Linked DNA regions of Homo sapiens: all the other regions are linked to region 5. The links come from fine-mapping of genetic effects on gene expression. A gene starts in region 5. Each other region holds a variant in brackets. All regions are shown on one strand. Distances are between the middles of the regions.

Region 1 (5,000 bases), 640 kb before region 5:
AAAAAAACAGACAAATTGAACTTCCTGATAATTTTTAAATTGTGTGCATCAAAGGACACTATGAACAGAGTAAAAAGGCAACCCACAGAACAGGAGAAAATACTTGCAAATCATGTATCTGTTAAGGGATTTATATCCAGAATATATAGAAAACTTCTAAAACTCAATGACAACAAAATGCCTGATTTAAAAAATGGGCAAAGGACTTAAATCAACATTCTCCAAAAAACAAACAAACCAATAAGCACATATAAAGATGCTCAACATCACTAATCATTAGGGAAATGCAAATCAAACCTACAATGAGATACTACCTCCTACCCATTAGAACGGCTACTTAAAAAAACAAGCAAACAAACAAACAAACAAAAAACAGATAATCACAAGTGTTGGCAGGAAGATCTACCAAGCAAATGGAAGATGGAGAAATTAGGATCTTTGCTCTGTTGGTGGAAATGTAAAATAGTACAACAGTGTAGAAAACATTATGGTAGCTCCTCAAGAAATTAAAAATAGAATCACCAGGTATGTGGTCAATTTTGGAATAGGTGTGGTGTGGTGCTGAAAAAAATGTATATTCTGTTGATTTCGGGTGGAGAGTTCTGTAGATGTCTATTAGGTCCACTTGGTGCAGAGCCGAGTTCAATTCCTGGGTATACTTGTTGACTTTCTGTCTCGTTGATCTGTCCAATGTTGACAGTGGGGTGTTAAAGTCTCCCATTATTAATGTGTAGGAGTCTAAGTCTCTTTGTAGGTCGCTCAGGACTTGCTTTATGAATCTGGGTGCTCCTGTATTGGGTGCATATATATTTAGGATACCTAGCTCTTCTTGTTGAATTGATCCCTTTACCATTATGTAATGGCCTTCTTTGTCTCTTTTGATCTTTGTTGGTTTAAAGTCTGTTTTATCAGAGACTAGAATTGCAACCCCTGCCTCTTTTTGTTTTCCATTTGCTTGGTAGATCTTCCTCCATCCTTTTATTTTGAGCCTATGTGTGTCTCTGCACGTGAGATGGCTTTCCTGAATACAGCACACTGATGGGTCTTGACTCTTTATCCAATTTACCAGTCTGTGTCTTTTAATTGGAGCATTTGGTCCATTTACATTTAAGGTTAATATTGTTATGTGTGAATTTGATCCTGTCATTATGATGTTAGCTGGTTATTTTGCTCATTAGTTCATGCAGTGTCTTCCTAGTCTCGATGGTCTTTACATTTTGGCATGATTTTGCAGCGGCTGGTATCGGTTGTTCCTTTCCATGTTTAGCGCTTCCTTCAGGAGCTCTTTTAGGGCAGGTCTGGTGGTGACAAAATCTCTCAGCATTTGCTTGTCTGTTAAGGATTTTATTTCTCCTTCACTTATGAAGCTTAGTTTGGCTGGATATGAAATTCTGGGTTGAAAATTCTTTTCTTTCAGAATGTTGAATATTGGCACCCACTCTCTTCTGGCTTGTAGAGTTTCTGCCAAGACATCTGCTGTTAGTCTGATGGGCTTCTCTTGTGGGTAACCCGACCTTTCTCTCTGGCTGCCCTTAACATTTTTTCCTTCATTTCAACTTTGGTGAATCAGACAATTATGTGTCTTGGAGTTGCTCTTCTCGAGGAGTATCTTTGTGGTGTTCTCTGTATTTCCTGAATTTGAATGTTGGCCTGCCTTGCTAGATTGGGGAAGTTCTCCTGGATGATATCCTGCAGAGTGTTTCCAACTTGGTTCCATTCTCCCCGTCACTTTCAGGTACACCAATCAGACGTAGATTTGGTCTTTTCACATAGTCCCATATTTCTTGGAGGCTTTGCTCATTTCTTTTTATTCTTTTTCGTCTAAACTTCCCTTCTCGCTTCATTTCATTCACTTCATCTTCCATCGCTGATACTCCTTCATGCTAAAAACTCTCAATAAATTAACTATTGATGGGACGTATCTCAAAATAATAAGAGCTATCTATGACAAACCCACAGCCAATATCATACTGAATGGGCAAAAACTGGAAGCATTCCATTTGAAAACTGGCACAAGACAGGGATGCCCTCTCTCACCACTCCTATTCAACATAGTGTTAGAAGTTCTGGCCAGGGCAATTAGGCAGGAGAAGGAAATAAAGGGTATTCAATTAGGAAAAGAGGAAGTCAAATTGTCCCTGTTTGCAGACGACATGATTGTATATCTAGAAAACCCCATCGTCTCAGCCCAAAATCTCCTTAAGCTGATAAGCGACTTCAGCAAAGTCTCTGGATACAAAATCAATGTGCAAAAATCACAAGCATTCTTATACACCAATAACAGACAGACAGACATCCAAATCATGAGTGAACTCCCATTCACAATTGCTTCAAAGAGAATAAAATACCTAGGATGTGAAGGACCTCTTCAAGGAGAAGTACAAACCACTGCTCAATGAAATAAAAGAGGATACAAGCAAATGGAAGAACATTCCATGCTCATGTGTAGGAAGAATCAATATCGTGAAAATGGCCATACTGCCCAAGGTAATTTAGAGATTCAATGCCATACCCATCAAGCTACTAATGACTTTCTTCACAGAATTGGAAAAAACTACTTTAAAGTTCATATGGAACCAAAAAAAGCCCGAATCGCCAAGTCAATCCCAAGCCAAAAAAACAAAGCTGGAGG[C/T]ATCATGCTACCTGACTTCAAACTATACTACAAGGCTACAGTAACCAAAACAGCATGGTACTGGTACCAAAACTGAGATATAGATCAATGGAACAGAACAGAGCCCTCAGAAATAATGCCACATATCTACAACTATCTGATCTTTGACAAACCTGAGAAAAACAAGCAATGGGGAAAGGATTCCCTATTTAATAAATGGTGCTGGGAAAACTGGCTAGCCATATGTAGAAAGCTGAAACTGGATCCCTTCCTTACACCTTACACTAAAATCAATTCGAGATGGATTAAAGACTTAAATGTTAGACCTAAAACCATAAAAACCAGAGAAGAAAACCTAGGCATTACCATTCAGGACATAGGCATGGGCAAGGACTTCATGTCTAAAACACCAAAAGCAATGGCAACCAAAGCCAAAATTGACAAATGGGATCTAATTAAACTAAAGAGCTTCTGCACAGCAAAAGAAACTACCATCAGAGTGAACAGGCAACCCACAAAATGGGAGAAAATCTTCGCAACCTACTCATCTGACAAAGGGCTAATATCCAGAATCTACAATGAACTCAAACAAATTTAAAAGAAAAAAACAACCCCATCAAAAAGGGGGCGAAGGACATGAACAGACACTACTCAAAAGAAGACATTTATGCAGCCAAAAAACACATGAAAAAATGCTCACCATCACTGGCCATCAGAGCAATGCAAATCAAAACCACAATGAGATATCATCTCACACCAGTTAGAATGGCAATCATTAAAAAGTCAGGAAACAACAGGTGCTGGAGAGGATGTGGAGAAATAGGAACACTTTTACACTGTTGGTGGGACTGTAAACTAGTTCTACCATTGTGGAAGTCAGTGTGGTGATTCCTCAGGGATCTAGAACTAGAAATACCATCTGACCCAGCCATCCCATTACTGGGTATATACCCAAAGGACTATAAATCATGCTGCTATAAAGACACATGCACACCTATGTTTATTGCGGCATTATTCACAATAGCAAAGACTTGGAACCAACCCAAATGTCCAACAACGATAGACTGGATTAAGAAAATGTGGCACATATGCACCATGGAATACTATGCAGCCATAAAAAATGATGAGTTCATGTCCTTTGTAGGGACATGGATGAAATTAGAAATCATCATTCTCAGTAAACTATCGCAAGAACAAAAAACCAAACACCACATATTCTCACTCATAGGTGGGAATTGAACAATGAGAACACATGGACACAGGAAGGGGAACATCACACTGTGGGGACTGTTGTGGGGTGGGGGCAGCGGGGAGGGATAGCATTGGGAGATATACCCAATGCTAGATGATGAGTTAGTGGGTGCAGCGCACCAGCATGGCACATGTATACATATGTAACTAACCTGCACATTGTGCACATGTACTCTAAAACCTAAATAATAATAAATTAAAAAAAAATAAAAAAATTAAAAAAAATATGGAAGCATACTTGTATGCCCATTATGAACCACTGGGAAAAAAAAATAGAATCACCAAATGATCCAGTAATTTCACTTCTGGGTATAACCCTGAAAGAATTGAAAGTAGGGTCTTGAAGAGATATTTGTATACCCACATTCGTAGGAACATTATTCACAATTGCTAAAACAAGGAAGTAACCCATGTCCATCAATGGATGACTGAATAAGCAGAATGTGCTATATACATACAATGGAATATTATTCAGCCCTACAAAAGAAGGAAATGCTGATATATGCTACTATGCTACAACATGTATTAACCTTGAGGACATTATGCTAAGTGAAATAGGCCATGCACGAAAAGACAAATACTGTAGAATTCTACTTATATGAAATACTTAGAGTCGTCAAAATAATAGAGAAAAAATAGAATGGTGATTGCCAGGATCTAGGGAGATGGGGGAAATGGGAAATTACTGTTTAATGGGTATACAAGTAGGGTATTTTAAAAGTGTATTTAGTGATGTCATAACATAAGCTTTTATCCATAAATTCCACAAACACCCTATAAGTTTTTAACGTCTATGAATGTTAAGGTCTCAGAATTTCTATGATATATATGCAACTATAATTTTCTAATAAATATATGTAGAAAGGGTTTATAACAATGGTGACACACATCACTTGTTCTTCCATTATCCAAATTCATATTATAGGTATTTGTTGTCTTTCTAAAATCCCAACTTAGTTTGACTTGTTAGAATCATGTTTTTTAGTTTCTAAATGAATGTAATTTTATTATCACAGATTCTTATGATACAATAAAACTGAGACAGATTAAAATGCTAATTGTACAACCTAAACAACAAAACCCTGTAATTCAGAAAAAAAGTGTTTATATATAAAAGTGCTATCTCCCCGTCATCAAT
Region 2 (6,267 bases), 40 kb after region 5:
ACATGTAACTTCACAGTGTGCGGACTCCAATCAGACAGCAGATGGCAAAATTAAACACAAATACACTCTTCTAGAGAGTTAAATAATCCTTGGGAGGCTTGTAAAACAATGCTACCATATTACATTGAGAGGATATGGCACCCCTTCATCTCCCACCCCCTCCCCATCCTGCCCAACTGTCTAATTTCCAAGTTTTAGATAGTTTGTATTGACATTAATAAAATGCTTTGGTTTTAAGCCTGAGATTGAACCCCAGTTTCTTCACTGTGTAATGTTGGGCAAGTAATTAAACTACAACTGGCTTAACTTGCTGTATGTTGGGAGGAACACATGAAATAGCTTTTGTAAGGTTGTAAGGTGCCTGGCACATGATAGGTACTCAGTAAATCTTAGTTCTTCTCTTCACCTTTCCTTTTTTAAAATTAAGACACTTCCACCTTTTGTCTGGCCTTTATAGACCACATATGCTTTATTTAGAAAACTCTCTGCCCCGTGATTACTGTTTCAACAAAATGGAGAGTTTCGATATTCTTGAAATCGTGTTTTTTTTTTTAAATAAAAAAGTTATTAGATACAGGGTCTTACTATACTGTCCATGCTGAACTCAAGCCATCCTTCTACCTCAGCCTCTCGAGTAGCTGGGACTACAGGTGTGCACCACCTGGCTTGATATTCTTTTTTTTTTTTTTCTTTTTTTGATGGAGGGGTGGGAATACTTCTTGTTTAGATGAAAATATTAGTCTTATCTTCTTTACACGGAGGGTTGGCTTCCCAAGTTATCCTTTGCGTCGCTCACTCAGTAAGTATTTTAGTGTCCATGCTGAGGTTTGTGAGGAGGAGGAGAAGGCACAGAAGGCTCCCAGGAGTGGGCTGTCCATGTACCCTATTGTTGGTAAGTGCAGAGGGAGTCTGCAGAGCTGCCGGAGGGACTATGAGCTGGGCTTATCATAGTGAGATTTGGGTTCCTGGAGAATACGTTTTCCTCCCTTCTCTGTAACTACTCACATGATAACCTGTGTGCTGGCCCTTGATTTTACCTCCCTTATGGAGTATGATATTAATGTAGATTAATAGGTCAGGGTCCCAAACTCAAACTCAGTTCTGCCACTGTTTACAACTTTTTTTTTTTTTCCTTGAGATGGAGTCTTGCTCTGTTGCCCAGTCTGGAGTGCAGTGGGGCAATCTTGACTCACTGCAAGCTCCGCCTCCTGAGTTCAAGTGATTCTTGTGCCTCAGCCTCCTCAAGTAGCTGGGATTACAGAAATGCACCACCATGCCTGGCTAATTTTTGTATTTTTAGTAGGAATGGGGTTTCACCATGTTGGCCAGGCTGGTCTCAAACTCCTGACCTCAGGTGATCCACCAGCCTTGGCCTCCCAAAGTGTTGGGATTACAGGTGTAAGCCACCAGGTCCAGTCGGTTCTTCTTTTTTTTTTTTTCTTTTTTTTTGGAGACGGAGTCTCACTCTGTCACACAGGATGGAGTGCAATGGCATGATCTCGGCTCACTGTAACGTCCGCCTCCCAGGTTCAAGCGATTATCCTGCCTCAGCCTCCCAAGTAGCTGGGATTACAGGTGCATGTCACCACGCCCAGCTAATTTTTTTGTATTTTTTAGTAGAGAGAGGGATTCACCATGTGGGCCAGGCTGGTCTCCAACTCCTGACCTTGTGATCCACCCGCCTCGGCCTCCCAAAGTGCTGGGATTGCAGGCATGAGCCACTGCGCCTGGCCAGGTTCTTCTTTTTAGTATTTACACTTTTGTTTTTTCTGCCTCACCGCAGAATCCAGTATGGTCTAAACCTTGTTCAGTATTAATGGCCACACAAGGGAAAAGATCCCTAGCCCCCTTTCCTCATTTCTGTGCATAACTCTAAATGAGGTGTGATACGGTAAGTCCCTTGGCGGTCCAGGTTCCATTCATTCATTCATTCATTCATTAGGCAACAAGTATTTATTGAGCAAACCCTGGTGCGAAGCCCTGGTGTTTTTTCTGTGTATGTAAGAGCCTGCTCTGATGGAGACAGAGGGTGACCAAGTAAACAAGGAAGATCATTAGAGATTATGATAAGTGCTATGAATGAAACAAATGAAATGATGAGGAACTTTATGTAAGCTGCTATTCCTAGTAATTTTAATTAGGGTGATCAGAGATGTTCTTCTTGAGGAGGTGGCTTTCTAAGCTGAAAATCAAAGGATGAGAATGAGTCAGCCATGGGAATAATTGAGCAAAGGACATTATAAGAAAGGGGACAGTGCAGAGAGCTGTGGGATGTTTGACTTGTCCAAGGAACGGAAAGAAAGACCTGTGGCTGGAGTCGAGTGAGTAAGGGGATGTGGTCAGAGGCTGGCGGGGCTGTTTTAGGGCTCTGTAGATAGGGAGAATGAGTTTGGGATTTTTCTAAATGCAATGGAAAGCTCTTGAAGAGGTCTAGAAAACTGGAATGGTGTATGCTTATTCAAAAACATGAAGTAAAAGAATGATATTGTTGTCATGTGAAGAATTGAATGGAGGGTGTCAAGCACAGGAGTAGGGAGACCAGTGAGGTGGCCCTTTGGAGGTCTCGTGGCTTGGGCTATGGTAAGAGTGGTAGGGATGTCAGAGAAGGATGCTTGGAAGATTAAGCTGGGTTGTGGTGGACCCCGGATACCTGGATGAGGAGCTTAGGTTTGGTTTTTGCAGCTGTGAGGGAGCTGTTGTGAATGTGTGAGTTTTTGAGTGAGTGCATGTGTATTTGTATGTGTGACTGTGAGATTGTGTGTGAGTCACTGTGTCTGAGTGTGGAGTGTGTGTGTGGTCTTCTGAGTGCATATGACTGTGTGCGTTTCTCTCCTGTTGCAGCTGTGATCAGGCCAGTGGCATGAAGCAAAGGGCTATCCTGTGTGGCACAGAGTAAACTGGGGGAAAGGCTGGTGGCAGGGAGACGAGCTGAGAGGGTGGTGCAATATGTGAAATGAAGGCCCAGAGGATGCTCACTTGGCTAGCCATGGAGAAAGAAAAGACTACATCGGGCAAGTCCTCTTATTTATTTTACTCTATAGTTGGGAAGAATGAGATTTAGGAGTGAAAGGTAACTTCATAAAAGACGTCATAGTCTCTTTAAATTAGGCCAGTTTGATCACTTGCTGAGTATTTTACCAGCCTTATTAAAAAAAAAATTAAACGTCACTGAAATGCATCTGCTTGATTTCTGTAAACAGAATTCCATAAGCGTTAAGTTGATTGATTCTACTGCCTGCTATACCTTCCTGCCAGGACCACTCTCCCCAATGCGTGTATTCATTTTCTCTTTTAGAATTCTTGAGAAACCCATTGAGAATTCTTGAGAAACTCATTGTATTTTTTATTTCCCCCAGGACGTTTTCGAAGATGCCTTGGAAACCATCTCAATGTAAGTAATAACATAATAAAAAGTATGTAGTAAGGAAAAATTGATGGTTGTCTTACATAAAAAGTAAATATTTCATTCTCATTTTTTGGAGAGTACGGCAATGGCTATTTTCAGAAAAAAAAAGTCACTTTTCTATAATTAAAGAGGATGTGATTATATTTAAGAAAGGATCTATCTAATACTTTCAGATACATTTCTGAGTATTATTTCTTGTAACAAAATAAAATATTTCTCAACAAA[G/T]TATTTGTTTATAGCTAACTCTTTTAATAGTTGTTCATATTTATGTCAGTCTCATTTTGTAGATTTTTGTGTTTGGTTTGCACTTAGTTTTATTAAAAGCATTCACTGTAAGCCTATATAGTTTTTGTAATAATTCTAAATTGCTAAATCATATTAGATCAAATGGAATATTACAATTTACTTACCTGCTTCTCCATTGTTAGACATTTAGGTTGTCACTGGCTTAGAAATGTAGAACTAAGTTTTACATGTGTATAGCTTTGTTATATTTTGAATTATTTCTAAAGGTTAACATAACAAATGTAGGATTACTGAATTAAAAGGGATGAATATGTTTATTGTTCTTTGTATATCTCTAATTGCCTTCCTGTATTAGTTAACTTCAGCTTCTATAACAAAACACAATAGCCTGGGTGGCTTAATCAACAATAATTTATTTTCTCACAATTTTGGAGGCTAGAAGTCTGAGTTAAGGGTGCCAGCATGGTTGGGATTCTGGTAGGGGCTCTCCTCTTGGCTTGCAGACTGCCTCCTTGTTGTGTTCTTACATGGCCGAGAGAGTGAGAGCAAAAGCTCTCTGGTGTCCTTTTTTTTTGAGACGGAGTCTCGCTCTGTCGCCCAGGTTGGAGTGCAGTGGCACGATCTCGGCTCACTGCAAGCTCCGCCTCCCAGGTTCACGCCATTCTGCTGCCTTAGCCTCCCAAGTAGCTGGGATTACAGCTCCCGCCACCACGCCAGGCTATTTTTTTTGTATTTTTAGTAGAGACGGGGTTTCACCATGTTAGCCAGGATGGTCTCCATCTCCTGACCTCGTGATCTGCCCCTCTTGTCCTCCCAAAGTGCTGGGATTACAGGCGTGAGCCACTGCGCCCTGCCTGATGTCCTTTCTTATAAGGGTGTTAATCCTATCCTGAGGACCCCACTCTCCTGACCTCATTTAAATCCGATTGTCTCCCAAAGGCTCCATATTTAAATTCCATCACATTGGGGGTTTGGGCTTGAACATGTGCATGTACAGGTGGGGGTAGAGGGGCACCGTTTGTTTTACAGTACTTCCACAGGAGTATTATCAATTTACTTGGCTACCAATACTATGTAAGCAAAGTGGTTTAAACTGTCACATTATCATCACTGGGTATTATTTCAAAAACAGTTTTGCAACTTAAATGATACCTACTTTAGTATTTTTAAAAATTATTTTAAAAATACATTGCATCTTTTGTATGACTTCTAATTTTCTTTTGTCTCTTAGCTTTTTTCAGAATGTTTCTCTTAACATACTTATGGACTTTAAATTATATATACCCTAATCTTTTGTCATATTTGCTATAGATATTTCCTCCAGACTGCAATTTTTCTTTATTTTAGTATTATACATTTTTATTTTGTCCAAAAGTTTCATGTTTATATGATTTTTTAAAAAAAAAACTTAATTGTGATTGGGATTAACCTATTAATTAGGAGCAGTTTCAGACTTACAGAATTATTGAGGAGGTAGTACAGAGTATTCCTGTGTACCCCACCCAGGTTTTCTCTATTATTAATTTCTTAAGTTAGCATGGTACATTTCTCACAATTAATGATCAATATGGATATATTATTGTTAACTACAGTCCATACGTTATCCAGATTTATTTAGTTTGTACCTAGTGTCCTTTTTCTGCCTCAGCATCCCACCCAAGATACCACTTTACATTTAGTCGTCATGTCCCCTTAGGCTCCTCTTGGCTGTGACAGTCTCTCAGACTCTCGTTTTCGGTGACCTTGACAGTTTTGAGGAGTACTGTCAGTTATTTTGTAGAATGGCCCTTAATTGAGATTGGTCTGTTTTTCCCCCCTCATGATTTGACTGTGGTCATGTGTTTTTGGGAAGAAGACCCCAGATGGAAAGGGCCATTCTTATCACATCATAGCAAAGATCCACGATATCAATGTGACTTAGCACTACCGATGTTGAACTTGGTCACATGGCATGGGTAGTGTTTGTCAGGTTTTTCCACTGTGAAGTTGCCCTTTTTCCCCTCCTCCCTTTTTATACAGTACTCTTTGGAAGATAATCTGTTTATGTGATTTTTAAGAAATCACTTCTATGGTGGGCAAGTGATCGCCATTCAGAAATCTTATAATTATTCAACCCTGCTCCTCCCTTGGTGTTGGCAGGAATTGAGCTTGGGCTATAGTAGGTGATCACAGTCCAGGGGATGGAAAAGGATCAGGCCTTGGGGCTGGTGATTGGAGTTCACCAGAGGAGACACTGCTTTTCCCAGCGGGAGCTAGCATGCCACACACAACAGAGAGGGGTGCAGACCTCACAGAGGAGGACGGGTCTCACTGACCAGTGGGAGCAGTGTGACCCCTGAGCAGTGCACATTGATGCTTGTGCTTCTCTGAGCTCCCACTGGCTTCAGTAGGCTGGTAGTGGCTTTACCTTTGGGACCTCAGGAAGGCATTGCAAGCAGTTTTTTTAACATCTATTAGTTTTTAAAAAAATCAAACCACAGAAATAAACAAAAGCCCTAAATTCAACCCAGCTGAAGTTAATTTAGATTCCTATCTCACACCAGCCCTAAAATTGCTAGCCCACTATTCCAGCACCATTTGTTAGGTCCATGAGGGAAACAATTTATATTTGATAC
Region 3 (6,267 bases), 790 kb before region 5:
TATGAGCTGTAAATTGATCTATTCAGTTAGAGAAAGCTGGTTTTTATTGAGTAATTTCCTCTGGACGACCTCCAGTTTTGAACACGTCCCCAAATTTCTCTGACTCTCCCCCAGCCCCCCCGGAGTCCATGCGTCAAAGCCCGTAAATCACTGGGGGGCAGGCCCCCCTCGCCGCTTGTCAGGTCACTGGGCTAATCCTGATATGGCCCTTGGTCCTGCTCGGTGCAGAGACCTCGGATCTGTTTGTTCTGCAGGCCAATTCCCAGCATGCCCCTTGCTGAGCTCACATCCCGGCAGCAGCGCAGGAGCCCCCAGCCACAGAAGGGATTTCTAACAGGTCCCAAGCCACGTCCTCTGCCTGGCCTCGGCTACCAAGGACATTTCTCAATTTTTCTTCTTAGCCTTCAAATGAGGCCTCCTGCAGATGAAAACAAGGGGCTCTTTATGGAAAACATTGCCCATCACTTGCTTTTACATTGCATCTTTTATGCCAGTATCCCTCAAAGCATTTTCACAGACAAGTGCCGTTGTCTTCCCCCTTACAGATGGCAGTGAGAGGAAAGCACAGAAAGTTAAGTGGTTCAATGAAGGTCACTCAAAAAATCAGAGCAGAGGTGGGGAAGGAACCCAGATCTCCCTGCTCCCAGGCCCATCCCTTGCCCACTCCCAGGCCTAGCTGCAAACAGCTGGTGACTGTGAGTGCCCTTCTCACACCCTGCCAGCATGCAAATCCCCCTTATCTTTGTTACTTAAAGCTCAGAACTGAAACTCCATCTTCCTAACCAGGATTGCACAGCTCTTTGGATGGAAGGGGCCATCTTGCAAAATCAATTGAAGGCCGATGGACCTGCCAAGACCCAAAAGGGTGGGAGGGGGGCCTGCAGGTCCCCTCAGGAGGTGAGACGCAGGCGTCAAAGCTTGAAGAGCAATTGCATTACCTGTGCGGCTGAGGTTTTCTGCCTGCTCAATCCGAAAGTTAGCAAAGTAGTAATCAATGGAAAGGAAATATAATTGAGAAGATTAAAAGCTGAGGGTGGGTATGGACTGGGGAGGGAAGTGATTGCTAAAGAGGTCCATTTGTATAATTCAAAGGTCGATGCCTCTCATTAAACTCACATCTCCAGACACTCAGGGGATGAAAAGAAGCTCTCCATGCTGACTGCCTGACACCTAAGAGTTTCCTCCGGCCACTTTCAAGGGCAGCATGAGGCCAGGGGGACGAAGAGCTGTTGGAAAGTGAATTTAGGGGAATCCATAAGCAGAAGAACATTTGGAGAATTGCAAAACACAAACAGATCTTCTGACCCTTTTAAAAAAGATATCCGAGTTTCTTGTAGACTATGAGGGCTTATTTACATGATCTTCACAGAAACTTAATCCATGCCTAAGGAGGTTCTAGACGGTTTCACCTTCCCTGTTTATATTTGTACCCACCCTCCCCCCTGCCCCCACCCCCGCCCCCCCCCAACACACGTTTATCCTTACATGAAATGCATCTGTTTCTACAGCTTCAGATCCATAATGAACTTTGGCTGAGATGACCTGTTTACTTAGCGAGCCAGCAACTACATCCGTCTGAGACAAGTGACAAGCTCATCCCCCGCAATCCTCCCTGGAAAGGAAGGTGTGTAGGAGAGCAAGCGCGTGTGTATATGTCTACAGATCTCAACTGAGATGTTGGGGCTGCAGGGTCCAGGAGGCCAGGACACGGACACCAAAACAGACAATATCGTAATTTCCCTTCTAGCCCTGCTCTTTGACTGTGGAGGAGGCTCACAGGAGTTAGTCCAGTGCATCTGTTTCCTTTACTGTTCTTCATCTTCAGTCCTTGGTGCCTACACCAGAAACCCCTGTAAGTGTACGCTGGAGACCACAGGATGCAGGGAGGGCTGCCAGATTTAATAGGTGTTTTGGTTTACTATTGCTGCAGAACACATTACCACAAACTCGGCAGCTTAAAACAACGTGTATTTTTATACCTCAAAGTTTCCCTGGTTCAGGAGTCTGGCATGTTCTGGACAGGTTCTCTACTCAGGTCTCACACAGCCAAAGTCAAGGTGTTGGCCAGGCCTGCCATCTTGTCCGAGGCTTGGGGCTTCTTCCCAGCTCTCAGGTTGTTGGCAGAACCCAGTTCATTGCAGCATGGAGCTGAGGTTCCCTGCTTTCTTCCTGGCTGTCAACTGGAGGCTATTCTTAGCTCCTAGGGGCTGACCACTCTTCCCTGCCCTGTGGCCTTCTCCACAACACAGCAGTTTGCTCCTTCAAGGTCACTGGACAATTTTCTACTGCTTCAAAGGCCTGACTTCCTTTTTCTCTGGACTCTAGACCCAGAATTAAAGGGTTCATGTAGTTTGGTTAGGCACACCCAGATAATTTGCTCTTTAACTTGATAAAGTCAACTGATTAGTGAGCTTAATTGCATTTGCAAAAATCCCTTTTGCCATGTAGTGTAACATAATCACAGGAGTGATGTTGCATCACATTCACGGGTTTCACCTACACTTTGGGGTAAGACATTATACCAGAGGGAGGGTCACTGGGGAGCATCTCAGAATTCTGCCTAATAGAAGAAATAAAAATACAAGATGCCCAATTAAATTTGAAATTCAGATAAACAATACATTTTAATTATTTCTCACACAATATTCAGGACCTATGTATACTAAAATATTATTCATTGTTCATCTGAGATTCAAATTTAACTGGGTGCCCTGTATGTTACCTGGCCACCCTAGGTGGAGAGCCTACAGGCTCTGCTGAAAGGCAGAGACTGGCTTGCAGCAGAATGTATTTCCTTTGTGTAGCAAGAAGCAGTAGACCTTTCTTCAGCTGGGGGCCCTTTGGTGATAAGAGAAGGCCTCTGTGGCCTTATTTCTGCAGCCCGGCTTTCTCTGCTTCCCTCCTAGCTCCTTCAGCCTGAGCCTGTCAACACCCTGCATACTCACTGAGAGCAACTGCCGTTCCCAGGCTGTGTGCAGCAACAGGCCACAGAGGTCAGCCACAGAGGCTCGCTTGCCTAGAATCACAGAGCCTGGGGGATGGGGTAGGGAATCGGAGAGGAGAGCTTGGGTGAAGGGGGAGCAAGAAACCACCCCAGGCCCCCTCCCATCTGCCCCAACAGAAGCTCTTGCCCTTGGTGGGGGGCGGGGTGGGGGGCGCCTGACAGGCTCTCTGGGCTACAGAAAACTCCCCTGAACCAGCAGAAGAGTTTTCCTTGGGAGCGAGGCTTGGCTCTCCTCGCAGCTGCTTCCAACCCTTGCCAGCAACACTTCCAACTCTGGCCAGCCCAGTGTTACATTTTACCAGGCCAGGCCCTATTAGCCTGATCCTAAGATGGGTTATTCTTTCCAGTTCTCACTAACAAAAATCCCCTTTTATTTGGACACTCAAGTGGCCTCTAGGAAAGGAGCTTTCATGAGCTGCCAAAAATGTTCAGATGCCGCAACATTTGTGTGTGTGGCCAATTACATCGATACCTCTGGGGCTGATCCCACAGGCCTTTCTCAGGCAAAATACCTGTGAACTTCCACCAGACCCCCCACCCTTTATCCTGAGCTCTATCTGCAAGAGGAGGCCTGAGGTAGCTGCCTGAGCTGAGCGGCTGGAGATAGGCTTATGCATGGCGTTTTTACTCGGATGAAATCAATCTGAGTGGGGAGAGTGATTTATATAAGCACCAGTCAATGCATTATTAGAATTAATATCATCATTTTGCTGCTTCCCTTTTTAGGTTTTTCCTCTCATAAATCAATTTAGTTCAATAAGATGGGGCTGAGTTTTGGCTGCACACAGATTAG[AGT/T]GTTCTGTGCTGTGGGAGCGAAGGACTGTTTGGTGAGTTCAGACAATGCCCCCATTGTTTTCTGATTTATTGAAAGCTCAGGTTTTGCTGGTATTACATGCATTCACTGATGTTTTGCAAAGCCTGGATTAGATTTTTCTTTTTTTTTTTTTAACTTGAAAGCTATCTCCATACAGCGTTGGTTTCTCAAAGAGTCTCTAGTTTGTCATAGACTGGCCTTTTTCCACAGGCAAGCAATGGCCAGTGAGAGGGTGGGTGGATGTCTTTATAATCATTCTTTCTTTCCATCTTCATATTTGGCCAACATGCACTAACTTGTGTCTGTTCTGAGTTCCCTAACCACTTGCAGAAGAGGATCTATTTGAGTCTTTTTCTTAATCATTGTCCTTGTTAAATGACTTTGTTGTGCGATCTCTTTCTTGTTGAGACTATCTCATTGCCAAATCAGTGCAGACTGTGGTCACCCACCAGAAGCCCACGAATATGGCAAACTGGGATGGACTCATGGGAGTTTGGATGCCCCCTTCATGCACCTCCTACAAAGGTGCCTTCCACAAGCTGCTTCTCAGAGACTTGTTTCAGAAGTCGCTAGGGAAGCTCATGGCATTTTTCTTATGAAAAGGACATCAGAAATGCTTAGAAAATGGTGTGCAACAATAAATCAGAAACAGCTGATTCGTCTTCAGGTTGCATCACGCTCCCTTGTGCTTCTTCACCTGCCACATCTTTGCCCTGTGTTTGTGAAGCCTTGCTCACCAGAACCTTCTGAGAGCCACTGCGATGGCGTTTCCCATCCATGTTCCCAGCCTGGAGGCTCCTCTGCCACTTTTCCTCTGTTGTGAAATGAAACTTAGCAGAATAAACCAGGGGGAACAGGGTGCACCCCAATGGCACAGACCAAGGCTCCTAAGAAGAATTCTGATGTTAACCCCTCTAAGGGTATCTAAAAGCCTGGTGGTGCTTTATTAAATCTCCAAGAATTAGCAAAAAATTGATGTTTTAAATAAGCCTTAAAGAGATGAATTTTTCAAACCCAGGGTCTTACACATGACAGTCACTCTCTAAACAGTCTGGAATCAACTGGATTTGATATTGACCAGTTTTTCAGTTTTAAGAAAAATTATTAAAAATCTTCCCCCAAATGAAAGCTTTCCCAAATAAGGGCTTATTATATCCATCCTATGTCAGAGCTACAAAATGAGCCCTCCCTGATGCAGGACTTGGCACTGGAAATCCTCAGAGCAGTCTCAATTTTTCTAGGAACATCCGTGCCCACATATGTGCACAGCACACTGTACCATCATTGCTCCCCCACTCCCAATTTAGATGCTTTCTCTGGCTAACACATGTAAGTCTATTTCTTCAAAGGGGGAATATTCCATAGGAAAATGGATCAATAAATTGTTTTTGAAAACAGAAAGGGATCTTTAAAACACTGGTTGTGAATTGAGACAGCAATTCAAGGTGGCAAAAACCCAACTAGTAGTGTTTTAAGTTAGGAGCACTCTTAATCCCTTGTAATTCTGTGTTCTAAGGTACTAGATTTCATTTCATCGACTTCATTAACACAGTACACTGGGAAGCGGACATATGATCAGCCCATTGTACATATGCCAAAACTGGGGCTCAGGGAAATTAGGTGGCTTACTCCAACACTCAAGAGTGTGGACCAAAGCCAGCTTTCTTATTCTCCTTCTGAGGGAAACTGCTCAGAATGAACACATTTTTTTCTAAATAGCAGCTCTTATTCACATATTCTTCCAACCAGGCTATGAAGTCCTTGATGATGATGACGACGACGACAACAATGATGGTGATGATGACACTAGAGACCATTTGTTTTGACCCACTACATTTTAAACACTTTAAAGCACATGTTCATGCTTGAATGTAATGAACTCTTCAAAATGACCCTGTAAGTTAGGGTAATAATATTAGCCCCATTTTATGCATTAGGGGAAAAAAGGCTCAGCGATGTTAGCTAGCCCAAAGTCTCTCAGCTAAAAGATAGCCGAACTCTGACTTAAACCGTGATGTGTATGTTCTCAATAACTAATGGATTGCATTGAACAAAACACTTGGCTACAAAGGCTACGCTGATTGTTTTCGTGTCTCTTTCCCTTTAAAGCTCGGACTAGCTCCTTATTTCTCACAGTAGGCACTGCTAACTGCTAGTTCCATATAACATTTCCTAACATGAAGCTGACTGGTACCAACATAAAGTTGATCACCACCTAGGGCAGGATGCATGGGGTGCAAAGAAGGCAGAAATGCAAGTCAGTCAGTCTCTTTTTCTCTCTAACTCAGTAGCAACATTTGAAGTTCAATGATGCTGTGTCTGGATTCTCACCGATAACACAGATCAGATTCGTTCTGAGAGATGCACTTATTTATCTCAATGAGCCTCTTTGTAAATGGTGCACCTTAAACCCAGGGCAGTCTTAGCAAGGCTTGCCCTGGCAAAACTA
Region 4 (6,267 bases), 26 kb before region 5:
GCACCAACCTAATACTTGGAAGGAAGATGGTCCTTTGAAGGTCAGGCAGACATAGTAGGTTTTAAGCTTATACTCAGGACTTCATAAAATTCCTTAACTGATTACATAGTTCACCAACATTGCCAGGTGCATTGTATTAATGTCTGTAGTGAACATCTATCATTTTAGCTACCCTGTGTCGATTCTGTCTTCTTTGGTAGTAGTTCCTTGATTTTCCTGGGGAACCTCCATTCCTCTGTTTTAGTCCATGTGGCTTCACTGTGGATGGCCCTACCCTGTGAATCAGGGCTAGACACATGGTGTAGAGTGGCCAATCAGAATATCTTATTTCTCTGGTCATATTTACTGGTTTAGCACTGGGTATATGACTGACTTTGGTCCAGTTAGATTGTATCCCAGGACTTTTTACCAGAATGGTTGGGAGAAAGAATCACTCTTCGTGCTCAAGTTAGAAAACTTGTAAGAGCTAATAGAAAGCAACGTAATCTTGGAGCTGCTGGCAATCATCTTTCCAATAAAAGAGAAGACTTTGTCTGCAAATGCGTCTATCACAAAAGAAAAGAGACCTGAGCTATGAAAAGGGCAAGAATGAATCCTTGATATCTACCTTAAGCCCCTGCATCCAGCATGCCCAATACTTGTCGGCTCTTGGACATCTAATTTACATATGTTAATCAGTTTCCTATTTTGCTTATGCCAGCCTCATTTGGTTTTTAAAATCACTTATAAGTAAATATATACAGATGTAATAACTTTGGAAAATAAATGAGAACTGCAGACATTCCTTTGTCCCTAAATAACTAGAACTTTTGCTGTCTGCTAGTTCATTTGTTTTAGGAAATCTTACACGTGTTAGGGCCTATCCCCAGGATTGAGAAGTAGGAAATGAGATGTCCTGTATTAGTTGGGATACCACCTGCTAAGCTTTGCTGTGATAATAGCAGCTCCCCAATCTGAGTTGCTCATACTTGGTATCTATTGCAACTTGAGACCCAGGCTGAGGAGCCTCTACCATCTTGTAGAAGTGCCACCTGGAACACATGGCCTTCTTGGTCATCAAATGGGAGAAAAAAACTCATCAAAATCTCATACCCAATCTACATTTTGGCTCATTTTTTAGAATTAGTCACATGGTCCCACTTAACTGGAAGGTGGTTAGGAAGTGAAGTCTTCCATGTGCCCCAAAGGCGAGAAGCCCTAGTGTGCACTAGTGATGTCTAGCACATGGTGAAGCCTGTATTTATACAAATACAGGCTTCATGATGTGTTAGACGTTAAGAGTTATGCTGTAACAGGTAAAATAAAGCCAGGTGCAGTGACTCATGCCTGTAATCCCAGCACTTTGGGAGGTTGAGGTGAGCGGATCACGAGGCGAGGAGTTCAAGACCAGCCTGGCCAGCATGGTGAAACCCCGTGTCTACTAAAAATACAAAAAATTAGCTGGGTGTGGTGGCTCATGCCTGTAGTCCCAGCTACTTGGGAGGCTGAGGCAGGAGAATTGCTTGAACCCAGGAAGTGGAGGTTGCAGTGAGCCAAGATTGTGCCATTGCACTCCAGCCTGGGCAACAGAGCAAGACTCCATCTCAAAACAAAAACAAAAACAAAACAAAAACAAAACAAAATAAAAAAACCAGGTAAAATATATTAAGTACTTATATGTACTAGACATTTTGCATAGATTATTTTATGTACTCCTTACCACATCTTTATGAGTTATTGCCCCATTTTCTACATAAAGCAGTTGTGGTTTAGCTGGAGGAGATGACTTGCTAGGAGGCACAAAGCAGGGGAGCAGAGATTCTATTTGACCCTGGTTGGAACCTGGCCACTTTGTGCCATCTTGCCTCCCTAACGAAAAGCATCCATTGATGAGGCAAGGAATTGGAGTTGGCAAGATTCCTGAAAAGTCGAGTGAGAAATGATTGGGGCTTGCTTACCCATATTCTGGGCAGATGAAGAGAATAGGCATTGCAAAGGTGAAATGATAGAACTCGGTGATTGATCAAATATGGTGATGAGGAAGAGGAGTGAGTCAATAATGACTGAGTTTTCTCGCAGTCTGACTGGGAGAGGTTTGATGCACCAGGAGAAGTGTGAGAGGAGATGTCAAGGTGGCCGATGGAAACATAGACTTGGAGCTGGGTGGAAGTCTGGCTGGAGCCGTTGACTTGAAAATCCTCTATTTAAAGATAACAGTTTACAAGGGTAGTGGATAAGATGATCCAGAGAGATAGCACATGGAATGAGAAAAGGGTCAAGTCAGAAAAACTTTAGGAGTTAGGTCAGAGGAGGTATATATGGAATCCTGTAGTTAGAGAAGAAAAGAGAATGAAGAGTAAGGAATCAAAAGGAACGAGAACATCTGTCAGAGGAGCCCTTACCTCTGTCTCCATGACAACACGGACCTCAGCTATGATAAATTCTCTTTTTTTTTTTTTTTTTGAGATGGAGCCTCGCTCTGTCGCACCCAGGCTGGAGTGCAGTGGCACGATCTCGGCTCACTGCAACCTCCGCCTCCTGGGTTCAAGCGATCCTCCTGCCTCAGCCTCCCAAGTAGCTGGGATTGCAGGCGCCTGCCACCACACCTGGCGAATTTTTTGTATTTTTGGTAGAGATGGGGTTTCACCATGTTGGTCAGGCTGGTCTCAAACTTCTGACCTCAGGTGATCCGCCCACCTTGGCCTCCTAACAAATTCCCTTTTATGAGTGTTCATGTCTATAGGTTAGAGCATGACCTAACTAGAACTTTACCTTTAGAAATGCACATATTAATATATATTTTTGACCTGGATGCTAATGAAAGCTGGTGTTCAATTTTAATCTCTTGGTCTTTAAGAATGGGCATTATACTGAAAAGATTAAAAAACAGATGGAAAAAGTGAATCTAAAACATAAAAGAAAGAAACTATTTTGAGAATTAGATGAAAGAAAAAAAAAGAAAATGTGTCCTCTTTAACATCATAGGGAAGACTTCTGTCTTTCCAGGAGGAAGATGATAATTGAGT[C/A]AGTGTTTCAATGGTGTTTTGTAAACGCCAAAATTCCCAACTGGGCAGAAATCCTAGTTCCTCTTCCGTTTTTCACTCATTTCTTTGTTGGCTTCTGTTAAGCATTAACTTTTCTAGGAAATCTTCCCTGACTGAAGCAAAGCCATGTCCTCCTCAAGTGCCCTTGGTACTTTGAACCTTATTCTCAGAGTATTTACAAGGTGTGTCTGCTCAGGGCAGATTAACATTAACAGCACGGTGGACTTTACTGAGGTTTAAAATTCCTGGTCCTTCACTTGCTCAGATTCTGTGGGTGCTGGGACTTACAGAGAGTTAAAGGGTGACCTAAGCGGAAGGGGAAGCCAGATTGTAAGCAGGATGCATCCATATAAAAGCATTTATGATAAATTGCCTAAAGAGATGTCACAAGTAAGGGACCTGAATCTCCTAGCCTCTGGTAGTTGGTAGTTTGTAGTGATTTATTTTCTCACTGCAAATGGTCATTTTAATAACTACTCTATTTCTGAAGCTTCTTGCTGGTACTGGTGCCTCTGCCTGTCCTGGCATCCAGGTCACATTTGTAGATTCTTTTTACCTGTCTCTAGATCCAGCGAGCAGTTGGCATCTGGTATCCAGGAGATGGCACAGTGTGGCAAAAAAAAGCTCTGTACACATTTATACAGCACTTATTGCAGCACAAATTGACACAATCTTTCTGCAGGCAATTTAGCCAGATATAAGTCTTGCAAAATTTATACTTGTGTAAGAGATAGGTCTGGGTTCAGCTTCAAATAACTGAAACCCCAAATAATAATGGTTTAAAAAAGATGGTTATATCACTGTCATGCGAAATTCCAAGAGTGGTCCAGAGTTGTGATGTGTGTGAGCTCCAAAAGGGACTTGGTTTTCTTCCAGTTCAATCATGAACCAAGATGAGAGAACTACTTTCCCGGGAGCAGGATGGAGTGTATCCAATGAAGAATGTGTCCAATGGAGAAACAAAGGCCACATAATACCTCTGTCTAAGGAAGGGACCTGGAAGCTGCCACATAATAGTTTTGCTCATATCTCACTGAGGAGACTTCAATCACATAGCCACTCTTAGCTGCAAGGGACACTGGAAAATGTAGTCTACTCCTGATGGTCATGTGTCTGGCTAAAACTTTTGGAAGAAGGGAGAAAGAATAATAGGGAACAATTAATACTGTTCTGTGCCTTGCCTATTTTACTTTATATATCTTGGCAATGATTCAATGTTAGTACTTAAGGAGAATCCTTATTTTTATTATTTTTTAATTTTAATTTTTTTTTTTTTTTGAGATGGAGTCTCGCTCTGTCCCCCAGGCTGGAGTGCAGTGGTGCCATCTTGGCTCTCTGCAATCTCCGCCTCCTGGGTTCAAGCGATTCTCATGCCTCAGCCTCCCGAGTAGCTGGGACTACAGGCATGCACCACCATGCCTGGCTAATTTTTTTTTGTATTTTTTGTAGAGACGGTGGTCTCACTATGTTGCTCAGGCTGGTCGCGAACTCCAGAGCTCAGGCGATTTGCCCACCTCAGCCTCCCAAAGTGTTGGGATTATGGGCGTGAGCCACTGCACCTGGCATTTTTATTTTTATTTTTTAAGGCTGAATAATAATACTCCATTGTTTTATAGTATCAACAATTCTTTTATTTTTTTTTGAGATGTGGTCTCATGCTGTCACCCAGGTTGGAGTGCAGTGGCTGATCTCGGCTCACCACAACCTCCACCTCCCAGGCTCAAGCGAGCCTCCCACCTCAGCCTCTCAAGTAGCTGGGATTACAGGCATGCACCACCATGCCCAGCTAATTTTTGTACTTTGTTTGTAGAGATGGGGTTTCACCATGTTGCCCAGGCTGGTCTTGAATTCCTGAACTCAAGCCATCCATCAGTCTTGGCTTCCCAAAGTGCTGGGATTACAGGCACAAACTACCACACCTGGCCACCAATCCCTCACTGATGGATGGTTTCAGTAGTTCCCAAATTTGCGTTGTTAAAAATATCACTGCAATGAGTAACCTTGCACATAGGTAGTTTCACATATATGTGAGTATATCTGTAGGATAAGTTCCCAGATGTGGAATTGCAGGAAATTTGTAATTCTGGTTGATTATTGCTAAATTGCCCTCATTAGAATTGTTGCAATGAAAAGCTCAGTATCGGTCGGGCAGAGTGGCTCACACCTGTAATCCCAGCACTTGGGGAGGCTGAGATGGGAGGATTGCTTGAGTCTAGGGGTTCAAGACTGGTGTGGGCAAGACCCCATCTCTAGAAAAAATTTAAAAACTTAGCCAGGTGTAATGGCGCATGTCTGTGGTCCCAGCTATATGGGAGGCTGAGGTGGGACGATCACTTTAGCCCAGGAGATTGAGGCTGCACTGAGCTGTGTTCATGCCACTGCACTCCAGTCTGGTTGACAGAGTGAGACCCTGTCTCAAAAACAACAACAACAACAACAACAACAACTCAATATCAACAATAAGCCTTTCCAACATAGCATTTTATGAAACTTTTAAATCTTTCCCTGTCTCGTAGGTAATATGCAATTTTACAAATGAAAAATAGTGCTATGATTAAAAACTTAAGAGTAGCAGAATATGCAAACCCAAAATATGCCACTTTGGCATGAAGATTATTTTGAGCTGAAGGCAACTGAGAGGAAGCAGATACAAGAAAAGTTCTCTGCCCTTCCTTTACTTACCTAAAAGCAAGAAGTGAATTTGTAAAGGTGTCCTCTTGTCCCAGGAAGGATAAAAGGTACAAACAATTTTAAACTCTTGTTACTTTTTGCTACAGTGTTTTCCAGAAAGATGTGCTAATTTTCTCATTCCCATCTAACAAAGCTTAAAAAGAGATTAAATAGATTGTAAAGAGGTAAGGTGCAGTAGGTAGGAAGATAGCTTTTAACACACCGGAGTTTGAGTTGGATTCTTTTAGAGCCTCTGAATAGTATTGTTTTTTATTTTTATTTTTTAAATAAATCAGTTGGTTGCCTTGGCTGAACACAACAGTTTCACTTTTTTCCTTGCAGTGAGTGGCAGAATTTTAGTTTGGTTATTTTAACCTTATCTGGGCAGCTTGGAGTTGGCATATGTGCCTGGTTCAGACGTCAGCCAGGTTCAGCGAAAGGGTAATACCCAGAGAAGTTGAAGCTTCTCCTCTCTACCTCTCCCTTTTCCTGGATTTCTCTTCTCAGTTTCCAGCTGCTATGGTTTCTCTGAACTCTGTCCTTGGATTCTTTGAACTAATAAACTGCACCTGGT
Region 5 (5,338 bases):
CTTGAAGAGCTAAGACACGAATGTGAGACAAAGTCACTGACAAACACATGATTTACAATGAGCACTTATTTCATGGATTTGAGCTTCTCCTACCACACAAATCATGAAGATTCAATTTTCACTTAAATCAAGTACCAGCAAAAAACTATCAGCTAAAGGTAACATGTTCAGGAATACTGAAGATTAGATTGTTTACAATATTAGATTTATTTTGAAACACAAACAGCTCCCAGTAGGTGTGGCTTCAAAATGAAATGATTCAGATACCCTCTTGCTTGATCTCTATGCTAATTACTTCTGGGATATGGAATATCTGAGTAATCTCACTTGACTGCTAGAGTATAACATTATCAGCAAACTTGCAAGGGGAATTCTGTGTAAAAACAAATCCATTCTAATTGTTCTTTGAAGAAAAACTTTTATATTTGTGATTCACGATAAAATCACTCTTGTATAGGCAAAGCTGACAGCTGCCCTGAGCAAAGCAAATTTGATTAGACGTTCCAGTGGCTAGAATACATTTATTCATTCAGTGTTTATAATTGAAACATGAATGTTGCTTATCTCCTGCCGTGAATTTAAAACATACGAGACTTCAGGTTTGATCCCTGATATGTAAAAAATTCAACAACAAAAACACCAATCAAGCTTCAATTATAAGTATAGATTTTTGAAAAATTGTACTCGATTTTCATTATAACATAATTCTGTCACTAATTAGAGCGAAGTTTGTTTGGATCTCTTCAAAATTTGAAGAGTTGAAATTCCAAAGGCAGAATAACAGCATATGGGAGAAGAAGCTACCAGTGAGATGGCTTCATGTCAAAAGGATGTGCTATCAATTCAGGAACCAATGAACTTTGAAAAACAGAACCATGCATGAGTAATACAGAGTAGAATCTGGACCTGGATAGGAATTCTAGCCTCAGAAAGTGAAACATAGGAGGAGGTAGGAGTGGGTTGGGGGTCTGGGAAGGAATGGAAACTTTCAAGGGTATTGGAATTAAACAAACTCTATGTCTCTTCTGGTCCATCTGATTCTAAGTGTTCAGAGCATGTGTTCTAAATAATAAAAGTATTATTATTATTATTATTTTTGAGACGGAGTTTCACTCTTTTCACCAGGCTGGAGTGCAATGGCACGATCTCGGCTCACGGCAACCTCCGCCTTCAGGGTTCAAGCAATTCTCCTGCTTCAGTCTCCTCAGTAGCTGGGATTACAGGCGCATACCACCATGCCCAGCTGCTTTTTGTATTTTTAGTAGAGACTGGGTTTCACCATGTTGGTAAGGCTGGTCTCGAACTTCTGACCTCGTGATCCGCTCGCCTCGGTCTCCCAAAGTGTTGGGATTACAGGCATGAGCCACTGCACCTGGAGCTTTTTTATTGAGTACCTGCACTGATGAATAAGATAGTGCCTCCTTCTAAGCAATTTACAGATTAGTGGGAACCCAGGAGGCGGAGGTTGCAGTGAGCCAAGATCGAGCCATTGCACTCCAGCCTGGGAGATGAGAGTGAAACTGTCTCTCAAAAAAAAAAAGTATTATTATTTAGAAATTGGGTCTTGCTATGTTGCTCAGGCTAGTCTCGAACTCCTAAACTCAAGTTAGCCTCCTTCCTCAGTCTCCCAGTGCTGTAATCCCATACAGGCGTGAGCCACCACACCTAGCCTGTGTCAGCTAGTTTTTTTAAAACAGCTTTACTAAGATATAATTTACATAATCATAAGTTCCACCTATTGTAAGTACACAATTCAAGGATTTTTAGACAATTCAGAGAGTTGAGCAACCATCACACGATCTAACCCATTTTTTCAATGTTTCTGCTGTAGAAACCATTTTATTATTCTAGTACAAAAGTACATGCCAAGCCATTAAAATTGTACAGCAAGTATTAAGGATGCAAAGTGACTCACTGAAAATGTATGTAATGGACTTGCACAGACAACTGCTCTACTGACACAGAAAGAAAGAGAGGGAGGGTGGCTAGAGCCAGTACAGTACAAAGCAATGGTTATCAGCTAGGCCCTAGAGTTAGACTGCTGGGGTTCAGATGCTGGCATCCCTACTTACTTAACTGCTGTCTGGCCTCAGGCATATTACTTGAACTCTCTGAGCCTCAGTTTACTCATCTGAAAGAGAACAGCACCCTACTTTATGGGGTTATGAAGAATAAATGAAATACTATATGCAAGAGGTTCAGTAGAGTCCTGGCACATAGTAAGGACTCAAGAACTATTAGCTGTTTTTACAGTTATCACTGGATGACTATTAAATAGCCTTTCATGAGCCAGACATGGAAGACCACATGCTCTAATTAAATTTATATGAAATTCTAGAGAAGGCAAATCGATGTTGATAGCAGATCAGTGATTGACAGAGGCTAGGGAGCGGAGGTAGGAAATTGACAGCAAAGGGTCACAGAAAACTTTTCAGGATGTTCTATATTATGACTGGGATGCTTTGTAAACACTTGTCACTGAATCACACATTTAACTTGGTGCATTTTTCTGTATGTAAAGTAAATCTGACCTCTCTCCCCCAAACTCTTAAAGATCTAGCTTTTAATTTTCCAGTTATTTTACATGTCAGAAGCAAGGTTCAGTTTCTAAACTCAGCCAACAAATATCTGTTGAGCACCTACGATGTGCAAGACACTGTTCTGGGTGTTGGGGATACAGTCTTGAAGAGGACAGATAGCATCCTACCCCCATGGAGTTTATAGTTCAAGCACGAATTATACACCTATGTTTGGAGTTACAAAATACAGGATGCTATGGGGAGAATACACTGTCCGGGTAGGGGGAAGTAGAGGAGTTCCAATATGTATAAATCTCTGTCCCGCGTTTTTTTCTATTTTTTGAACACAGAAGCAAGCAGAGTCCTTCCACCTACAGTCCAGGTGGGTGGTGTGTCAGAGGCCTCTCGGGGACCAGTGACCGTGACCCAAGGCTGCCCTCAGGCCACACCATCTGCGAGATGCGGTGGCCACCTGGCGAGGGAAAAGGACTGGCACCGGACCAAAGACCAGGTGGATGCTTCCACGGACCCCAGGTGGGGCGCTGCTTTGACCTTGGCTTCGTCATGCCCGCGCTCTCTAGCTTCTTTCCAGGTGTGCCCAGCCACCGCAGAGAACAGGCGGCAGGAAAGCTTAGGAAACCCTCCCAGAGGGCGTGCCAGACCGGGAAACTTTATCTGGGAGGTGACTCCACCCACTTGGGCGGGGCTGCCGCCCGCTGGGGGCCGGGCAAGTGGCCCGGCCAGCGGCGCGGCGTCCGGGGAGGAAATGGATGCTGTGCTGGCCTGCCGGCTCCGGGGGCGGGGAAATCGAGTAGCTGCACTCAGGCCCCGCCCGAGACCCGGAGGGAGCGCCGGGCCGTCCCCTTTTGCCCTCCTTTGCGCTGGGCTGAGCCCAGAGCCGAGAGCAGGAGTCGGCTCTGAGTTCCCTGCTTGGTTTTTGGGTGGCAGCAGCCAGAGGAGGAATATGGCGCTCTTAGGCAGCCGAGCGGAGCTGGAAGCGGACGAGGTACGATCCGATGGGGATTGCGGGCCCGGCCCCTGAAGCCCTGGACAGGAGTCCGGGAGAGAAGAGTGAGCCCGGCTAGGACGGCCGAGGCCCCGCCCCCTTGGTCCCCTCTCTGGGGTGGGCTGGCGGGCGCCGGGTGGGGGCGCCCGGCCTTGGTAGGTCTGTCCCCGCTGGAGCTAGGAGGGTCCCTGCGGCGCGCGGAGCGGACGCAGTGCCGAGGTTCGGAGCGCCGGCCCCGCGAGTCGTGGGGATGGAGGACCCACGTCCTGCCAGCACTTGGATGGGCGTGAGGGCGCGGGACCATAGGACCCGCAGCTCTGAGCTGTTCCGGGCCGGCCCAGCGACGCCTGGGCTTTACGAAGTCTGACCCTGAAGTCCTGGCACTGGCTCTCTGGGTGTTCGTGGAATCATCCCTCGACCTGGGAATCTCACCTTCTATGGAAGTTTCCTGGTGGCAGAACCGAAAGGCTTACGATTGATGAAAAGAGGGGGCAGCCTGAGGAACAATGAGTAGAGGGGTACCTGCCGCGACAGCAGGGCAGGGCTGCCAGGGGCTGGGGCTGGAGGGCTAGAGCCGCAGCCCAGGCTGTGGTGCTTCCCTCTCCCTCCACGGGGCCGGGACACTTCCCCTAGCAGGTCCTCAGAGTCGGTGGTGGCCGGAGGGAAACCACTTTGAGAACCGACTCCGGCCTCCTTTGGTTTCAACTGTGTTTGAGTAATTAGCCACTCCTTCAGTCGTGGCGCGCCCGGGCCTGAGCACCCAGGGGCTAGCGCGCCGGACCTGTTGATTTATTGACTATTCATTTCAGCACCTGGCAACTCCAGAGACAGCGCTCTCCCTGCTCTTGAAGTTGAGACCGAGGCTCCAGCAGCAGCCAGCACCCACAGCTGCTGTTCCTGCCATCTTACCTGACTTGAATTGTGCGAGTCGCTGCCTTTAGAAGGCTTTGGTTTCAAATGATGCAATAGTGGACGATCTGGAGGAGGCGGTTAAGTTTCCCGTCCATCTCTTTAGTGCCAGGAATCTCCTGACAAGGAAGACTATACTTTAAATGTGCTCCGTAAAATAAACAAAAAACAAAAACTGAACTACAGCTCCTCTGCATGACAGAGAGACAAGAGGGCAAGCCGGGCTGTCCAGACCCTTGCTTACAGCCTGTCCCTTGCATTGAGGATCCCAAGACTGTAGAATGAAATATTTGAATCCCGATCTGTTTGTAGGAGATTTGCTGTGCTTAGAACTATGTAATTCTCTAGATTAGGGCATTGTTGAGGCGGTGCTATTATTAATTAACACTGGGATAATAGGTGTAAACTGGGACTGTTTCGGAGATACTTTGACAAATGGTCACCCCAGCTATGCTCACTGCCTACTAGATGAACGGTTGAGATGCATTAGCCGATGAGGAGGGAAGTTAGGTTTCTGTGGGTGAAACTCTGGGTGGAAGTTAGGTTTCAGAGTAGCAGAGAGCCTGGCACACAGATACTTGGTAAATAAATATTTGTTGAATGAATGAAAGACTGCAGAAAAGATGTTGCTTAATAACAACTCAGTTTTTGCCATATCATTCATTTATTTTTCTTCATTCATTAACTATTAGGCTTCTGTTACATGCTAGGTACTGTACTAGTCCTAGTTGATGAGCAAAATACAAATTGAATTCTTTGTTCATGCCAAATTTACTTTTGTCCCTCACAGTTTACCACTTCCATTGCTATAAACTGAGCAAGCGTTTATTGAGCATTTACTTTGGGCTCAAACTTGGTAGGTGCCTTAGAGAAGGCATAGTTTTGCCTCTTTATGGTTCTCAGT

Evidence for each region.
Region 1: its variant is fine-mapped to the expression of TTC39B in whole blood (TOPMed, PIP above 0.99).
Region 2: its variant is fine-mapped to the expression of TTC39B in platelets (CEDAR, PIP 0.95). The same link has a PIP of 0.9 or more in whole blood.
Region 3: its variant is fine-mapped to the expression of TTC39B in whole blood (TOPMed, PIP 0.97).
Region 4: its variant is fine-mapped to the expression of TTC39B in monocytes after interferon gamma (Fairfax 2014, PIP 0.95).

What each region holds. Positions count from the first base shown.
Region 1 is chr9:15,946,893-15,951,892 of GRCh38, reverse strand. All of the region lies in intron 25 of CCDC171 (coiled-coil domain containing 171), which reads right to left. Among named protein-coding and RNA genes, the nearest start is that of LINC03041, 330 kb to the left of the region's middle. The variant C/T (reference allele first, on the strand shown) is at 2,633.
Region 2 is chr9:15,265,038-15,271,304 of GRCh38, reverse strand. TTC39B (tetratricopeptide repeat domain 39B) reads left to right here. Exons shown (of 20, transcript NM_152574.3): 2 at 3,357-3,391. Among named protein-coding and RNA genes, the nearest start is that of TTC39B, 39 kb to the left of the region's middle. The variant G/T (reference allele first, on the strand shown) is at 3,632.
Region 3 is chr9:16,097,688-16,103,954 of GRCh38, reverse strand. It overlaps a transcript of CCDC171 not described here. Among named protein-coding and RNA genes, the nearest start is that of LINC03041, 180 kb to the left of the region's middle. The variant AGT/T (reference allele first, on the strand shown) is at 3,798.
Region 4 is chr9:15,330,529-15,336,795 of GRCh38, reverse strand. No RefSeq gene overlaps it. Among named protein-coding and RNA genes, the nearest start is that of TTC39B, 26 kb to the right of the region's middle. The variant C/A (reference allele first, on the strand shown) is at 3,006.
Region 5 is chr9:15,305,271-15,310,608 of GRCh38, reverse strand. TTC39B (tetratricopeptide repeat domain 39B) reads left to right here and starts at 3,393. Exons shown (of 20, transcript NM_152574.3): 1 at 3,393-3,525. The coding sequence starts at 3,484. RefSeq lists silencers at 3,139-3,478, 3,509-3,828 and enhancers at 3,066-3,628, 4,192-4,755.